Homo sapiens: one gene and its partner. The protein of the gene in region 1 interacts with the protein of each later gene in a biochemical or structural test. Each region holds a gene or a part of one and is shown on either strand. Other genes may lie near its edges.

Region 1 (3,160 bases):
AAGTCCTGCCGGATCTGGCGCCTACGAGGACGTGGCGGGTGGAGCTCAGACCGGTGGGCTAGGTAAGTCAGGTAGAGCCTGGGTTGCTGGGACTTTGCTGCTTTGAGTGAACCCAGGAGTCTGGGGTTGATGGGGCATGGAGCTTAGTCCTGTGGATGTGGCTGCAGTGAACCAGGAGGACCTGGAGGCGGGGGGATGGCCTTCTTCATGTCTGCCAGCTTCCACACACCTCAGCTTCTCCATGAGACCCACGGCACCCTTCTTCTCCCAGGTTTCAACCTGCGCATTGGGAGGCCGAAGGGTCCCCGGGACCCGCCTGCTGAGTGGACCCGGGTGTAAGTCTAACGCCAGTTCCTGCCTGTTGCCTCTTGTGAGCTCGGACTGCTGATGCCCCGGTGCTGCTGAGCGCCGTGCGCAGAATGGAAACAGTGGGCCTGGATCAAAGTTAAAGTTTCTCAGGGTGGGAAATGTGGGGGCTTTGCCCCAATGACTGTAGCATTCAAGGCTTGAGGCTGGAGGAGGTAGCTAGGGTATAGTGGCTGGTGAGGCTGCACAGAGCAGATTCAAGAAAGAAGATCAGGAAGGGGCATGACCCCTGAGTTATGAAGGGGAGAAGGGACAGATGAGCTTCCGGAGACTGCTCTCCTCACCACACAGCACTAGTCCATCCTCAGCACCTGAGCCTCCCTCACTTGGACACTCAGGGGACCACACAGAGAAGTGGATGGACACTTCGCCATCCAGGCAGAACTAAGCCAGGCATAACCACAGCCAAGCAGATTAACCCCAGGCAGACCGATAAAAAGACCTCCAGATAGGCAGACAGACAGATGGACCACCAACCTGGACAGACAGCCAAAGCTTCAGAGATACAGTCCACAGGTGGACAAAGGGATCCCCAGCCAGAGAGAGAGAGACCAGCCAACAGCTTGATAGACCAGTGCAGCCAGAGAGACCACCAAACAGAGCCCCCAAAAGACAGACATCTCTGCTAGCTGGACAGCCAGGTGGACCCCCTAAGTTAGATTACTAGACAGATATAAACAGATCCCCTGCTGAACAGATACACAGAGTTCTCAGACCCCACCCCCACCCTCAGGTGGGCTGGCTGGCTGACAGACCTTCTGGCCAGACAGACTCCTAACCAACCAGATGGACTGCCAGACAGGCAGACATCAGCCACATGGAATCCTGACATCCCAGCCAGCCGGCCAGACTCTCATCTTGATGTCTTGATGGATGGACCCCAGCTAGTCAGACATGATCCTCCAGATTGACAGACAAGTCCCCCAAATGAGTACACATCTCCAGCTATTCAGACAGATGGACCCCCAGCAAATCAGGACCTATCTAGGCAGACCCCAGCCAGACCCCCGCCAGACAGACTCCCAACCAGACTGACCCCTTACTATTCACACAGCCTGCCGAGTAGCTGGGACTACAGGTCTAATTTTTTTTTTTTTTAAGAAATGAGTTTTTGCCATGTTGCCCAGACTGGTCTTGAACTCCCAACCTCAAGCAATCCTCCTGCCTCAGCCTCCCAAAGTGCTGAGATTACAGGTGTGAGCCACCAGGCTCAGCCCCCTAAGATTTGAAACACTTTAAATGGCCCATGGTAGGGTTCCTGCTAGGATAAAACATTAAGCGGCTGTTAAAAGAAATAAAAGGAGGACACGTCTCTGTGCACTGGTGTGGACAAATCTCCAAGTCACTGCAAAATGGAAAAAGTATAAGATGCTCTTTCCCTGAACCTCAAGGGTCCCGCCCCTCTCACTTTCAGGTCTCTGGACCTCTGACTGACACTGTGCCTGCCCAGGTCCCTGTATGCACTGCCACAGTGCCCTGGGCCCCATGTCCACCCCTGTCCTGCCCTTCTCTGGGATAGGGCTGGCCTTCCTCTGCCTCTGCCTGGCTGCATCCATGGTCGATCTCAAGTGCCTTGGCATGAACTCCACTCTCCTGCAGCCTTCAATCAAGGAATGATGGGGATGTGTACATACCCCACCCCACCCCTTGGCAGGGTGATGCTGAGGTGTGGATTTTTAACAGTTCCCAGACTTTCCCAGGAGGCTTGGGTTTGGGTGCCCACAGTGGGAGCTGGTGTGATATCATACCTTCGCCGGCCGCCTTTCCTTCCTGTTCTCTGTGCCCCTACTCCCACTCTAGAGCTGCCCCGTTTCTCTGTTTTCGTGAAAGAGCTGACCCTGTGCTGCCTCCCACTCTCCCAATGCCCCTGCCACTCCTGTGAGCCTGCTGCTGGTGAGGTCGGTGCTGACCTCTGTGTTGCTGGATAATGAGTCATCTATCTCTGGAGGAGAAGAAAGGCAGGTCCTCCACAGCCCTGATAAAATCTCCAAGTCTCCCAGTTTCGGGTCCCTCTCCTGGGATGCAGACCCACTGCCTGCCCAGCTGGTACGATCCACATGCCCTCTTCTTGGGAATAGGGGCATGGGAAAGTGACTAAAGATACTGTTCTGGCTGCTGTGTTCACTGTGAGTAATAAACTGTCCATTTCTCCGATTCAGAGGTCTGTTTTTCCTTTTTTTCTTCCCCAAAGATGGAGTCTTGCTCTGTCGCCCAGGCTGGAGTACAATGTCGCAATCTTGGCTCACTACAACCTCTGTCTCCGCCTCCCAGGTTCAAGCAATTCTTCTGCCTCAGCCTCTCAAGTAGCTGGGATTAAACGCGTGTACCACTATGCCCAGCTAATATTTGTATTTTTAGTAGAGATGGGGTTTCACCACGTTGGCAAGGCTGGTCTCGAACTCCTGACCTCGTGATCTACCTGCCCCTGCCTCACGAAGTGCTGGGATTACTGGCGTGAGTCACTGCTCCCGGCCTTGGTCTGGTGTTTTATACACATGTGCATGTGATGTGGAGCTGTGCAGGCCACCTTGTCAGCATGCGAGGAGGGTCCAGTCTCTGCGCCTTCTTGGTTTCTGACTTCACACCCAGTAGCCTCACTCCTGGCCCAGCATGGCAAGCACAGTTTCCACTCAGGCATTTGCCCTGGTTATTCTCTCTGCCTTGGATACTTTTCTCCTAGATTCTGCCTCTAATATATTTGAACATTTACCTCTTAATATTGTTTCCTGTCTCTCCTGATCAGAATGTAAGCTGCGTGAGGGCAGGAGTTTTTGTTTGGTTTACAGCTACTGTC
Region 2 (3,910 bases), on another chromosome or scaffold:
CAGTGTGAGAGGTTCCCACTGGCTACTTCTCTCCCCTTCCTGCTCTGGCCTTCCCTAGGGAAACTATATGCCCGCCCCAGGCTCAGGGAGCCAGACACAGAGGAGACAAGGCACTTGGAGGCCAGGAAGCCCAGAGGTGCGACGAGCACAGAGTGTGGGCAGGATGCCGCTCAGGAAGCTCCACAGGGGCTGGCTGCTTGCTTCTGCTGCGGCTGCCATACCCTGCTCCCTTATACGCCACCCCTACCTGTGCCCAGATCCTGCCATGGAGGCTGCTCCTTGCCCAGCTCTGCCCTAGGGAAGGCAGGCCCAGGGGCTCTAGGACTGGACAGAGGTCTCAGTGATAAAATAGTCAAGGGGTCCTGGCCTGCCCTGGGCTACAGAGTGGCCTGGGTTTCCAGGCCCTACCCCTTCCCCCAACTTTGCACACCAAGGCAGGGCAGCTAGGTGGTGACTCACATCCCCCATCCCCCAGGGCTCCAGCTGCCAGCCTGGGCCCTGAGCATCCTGGTGCCTGGTCCTCCGGATGGGCTGAGGCAGCTCTGCCTCCATTGGCTTCTCTGGGCTGGGCCCACCCTGTCTTTGTAGAGATGGGGAAACTGAGGCCCAGAAAGGCACAAGGTGCCCTCCCCACGTGGGGTCCTTTGCCTACTGTACAGTCAGAGCAGAGGAAGCAGAACACTCACACGCTGGCCACAGGCCCCAAGTGGAGCCGGCCGGAAGGGAAGGAAGGCCTGGCTCCATAGCTCTCATCCTCCTGGCTGCAGCCCCAGGAAAAGGCCCGGGGAGGGCAGGGCTGTTGGCTGGGGCTCAGCCGGCTGAGCCGAGGGCCAGAGCGTCCTCTTCGGGGTTGGAGGCAGCACCCCGGGACAGCCACATTCCCCAGCTCCAACCAGAGAGGTCTCAGTTTTTCCCCAGAGCCCTGGGCACAGCCAGAGCTGAGGGGCAGAGGGGTAGTTGAAGGACAGCTGGAAAAGTGCTGAGATGACCAGGGGTCCAAGCTGGGCTGCAGGCTACGTGGCCCGGGCCAAGCCACTTTACCTCTACCACTGGCTGGGCGCCCTTATTTCATGGGGGAAATGACTTGATTTAAGCCCGTGTTGAATTTAAGAAAGTAAGCAAGCCATTGCCCACCTGGCTGCCTCCTTGAAGGACCCCTAAGGTCTGCAAGGGACAAGGGGCTGGGTGAGGGGAACAGAATTACCATTTGGAGTGAGGCAAGGTGCTGGGGGCTTTAGTGCCTTGGATCCCCTTGCTGATCCAATGCTTTAGTTGGTGTGTTGATTTCTATTTTATCACCATTATATAGATGGAGAGACTGAGGCTTGGAGACAGAAATGACTTGCCCAGCCTGTAACAGAGCCAAGACCTGAACTCAAGTTTGTCTGGTCTCTAAATCTGTGACCCCTCCTTTGCTGCCCCACACATCCTCCTCAAGCCCCCACCCATGTGTTACCCTCTTCTGAGGAGCTCCTGCTGTGGGGAGAGGTCTCCCAGAGGAGAAAACACACGGGGCAGCAGAGAGGAGGACGCTCATTCACGGAGTCCACTTGCGTTCCAGTCCAGAAGGGGTGGGGGCCTGGGCCACCTCCATGACAATTAAGACCAAGAATCAACCACTATTTTATGAGAAAGCTCCCCTCTCGGAGCCGCATCCCATCACCTGCATGGAGATTTCAGCCTAGCTCTGCCCCCTCCACTTGTTCAGTGCCCCCAACCATCCTCACTCACCCAAAAGGCATCTTTGAACTGCAGCTGGGGCATCATCCTCAGGCGTCTGCCGCGGCAAAGCTCACTCTCCTGCCACAGGCTGGCCTGATGGAGGGCCAGGCGCCAGCAGCAGCGTCCCAGTCCTGGCAGGGCTGGCCCAGGCCCCCCTTCCCGGCCGGCGCCGTCTGCAACACTCAGAAGGCAGCCACGAGCCAGAGAGGAGCTTCTGAGGGGAGGAAAAAGCTCAACCTGTTTTGTTTGGGGCTAGAATCAGCAGCAAAATGAGGAAGGAGTGGAGCTCAGTGATGGGAGGGCGGGCCCTGGTGTCCAGCCCAGCCCCTCACCGACCCTGCGGTGATGGAGGACACAGTCTGGGACCCAGGGCAGGGAGCAGGGATGCCAGCCCTGGGTGGGAGGCAGTGGCCAGTGGAAGAGGCAGGCTGGAGCTCGGGCCGGGCCAGGCAGGCAGGCAGGCAGGCAGCCCGAGGCCTGCGCAGGAAGGTTTGTGCAACCTCCCCCGGGGCAGGCACAGGGCCCTCGCCCACAGGAAGTGGAGTTGCTGTGCTCCCCTGTGCAGCCCCGCCTGCCACCTGCCATCCTGCTCCTGCCTCTGCTTGCCCCCTCCCGAGGTGCGGGCTCACTTTATTCCAGAGGCCATATGCTAAGGGAGCTTGAGGCCCACTGACAGTGTGGCCAGGAGGGGCCCAGGAACCCCAGGTGTGTCACCCGCCAGCCAGTCCAGCACCCTTCCAGGCTGGGCCCAGAGATGCCAGACTCCCCACCCCGCACTAGCAAGTCATTCTGGAGGGGCTTACCCAGGTCTAGGGCATCTGTCATTCATCAAACCCTGGCTGCTCTGGGACCCAAACCAGGTCCTGCCCTCAAGGAGCCCATAGTCTGGGAGCAGACACAGCTGTGCTCTGGGGGGCTGTGAGCACACAGAGGCAAGGTGAGCAGGCAGCAAGATGAGGGAGAACAGCCTGAGGCCCCGGCACTGCCCCCACCACCACCACCGCCACCACCGCAAGTCTCCAGATTAGACGCTGTTTGGGGCAGAGAACCCCCTTCTGAAGATGGAGGCTTCCGGCTCAGTGAATGGGAATGGATGGAGAGAGAAACAGGATTATCAAGGCACAGAGTGGGGTGTTTGGAAACCCAGTCTGAGGCCCAGTTTTTGTTTAATTTTGACCCCACCTTTCAGGGGCTGAGGGACCTTAATAGACCCCCCAACTCGCTGAGCCTCAGCTTCCTCATCTGCCACACCCAGTCTTTGGAAAGTAGACGGTGTCGAGAATATTTCTGGAATTTCCAGTTTGGTGGGCAGGTGCTGGGGGCACTGTGTGGTACCACCTTAGGAAGAGCCCTGGACTAGAGCCCCAGCCCCAGCCCTGAGACGCCACGCCCTGCCGGCTCAGCAGAAGATGCAGCAGGAAGTCCTGAGCCCAGGGCAGGCTGGCAAAATGGGGTGAGTCAGGGATTGTCCGCAAATCACCACCCTCACTGATGTCTGCCTTACAGCTGACGGGGTGATAAGATGAGAGCTGCTGCAGATGAAATAGTTGAGCTCCCAAGTGCCCATTATGCATGCCCAGGGTTTAGAGAGAGGGGGCACACCCAGGCTCTGAAATAGCCACCCAAGAGGAAACACTTTGGGGAGGATTGCAGAGCAATGGGACTGCCCCCAGAAGGCCCTCACCTCCAGAAACCTTGGATTTGAGCTAATCTTTAATCTGTAAGGCGCCCCAGTCAGGTTTTTTGTTACTTGCAGCTGAAGACAATTAATAGTGTAAAAATCCCCTTGAACTTTGTAGGCCATAGAGTGAGCCAGGCTGCACCTCACCTCCCAATGGCACCACCACCTCTGATAGCACTGGCTCAGCCTCCCTGAGCTCAGTTTCTCCATCCATCAGATGGGATGATGCCTCTAGGTCTGGAGCAGACTAGAGACCCTCTGTTAACAGAAGGCTCCTGCCTGCTTATTGGCAGAAATTTTTACAGCTGGGCTCCCTGCCCTGCCTCTCTAGGTGTCCTTCCCATCACCTCCCAGAGACTTCTGCTCCAGCCAGGCCTCTTCCCTCTCCCTGGAGGCACCTTTCCCACTCCCACCTGCTCTGTTCCCAGCCTCCCTTCTGGCAAGCCTTCCTTGATCTTCCTTACCTGGGCAAATCCTCCCACCCTCAAAGCCAACCTCAAGGCTCCC

What was found.
Region 2: the proteins of PTPN18 (region 1) and PSTPIP1 form a complex in vitro, tested with the Homo sapiens proteins (2 studies listed by BioGRID and IntAct).

Annotation. Positions count from the first base shown.
Region 1 is NC_000002.12:130,372,886-130,376,045, forward strand, and holds the end of PTPN18 (tyrosine-protein phosphatase non-receptor type 18), read left to right. Parts: coding exon 1-62; intron 63-271; coding exon 272-339; 3' UTR 340-1,780; coding exon of another isoform or gene 1,781-1,796; 3' UTR 1,797-2,520; downstream 2,521-3,160. UniProt on the Homo sapiens protein: Differentially dephosphorylate autophosphorylated tyrosine kinases which are known to be overexpressed in tumor tissues.
Region 2 is NC_000015.10:76,993,431-76,997,340, reverse strand, and holds the start of PSTPIP1 (proline-serine-threonine phosphatase-interacting protein 1), read right to left. Parts: upstream 2,216-3,910; 5' UTR 1,937-2,215; coding exon of another isoform or gene 1,768-1,936; coding exon 1,732-1,767; intron 1-1,731. UniProt on the Homo sapiens protein: Involved in regulation of the actin cytoskeleton. May regulate WAS actin-bundling activity. Bridges the interaction between ABL1 and PTPN18 leading to ABL1 dephosphorylation.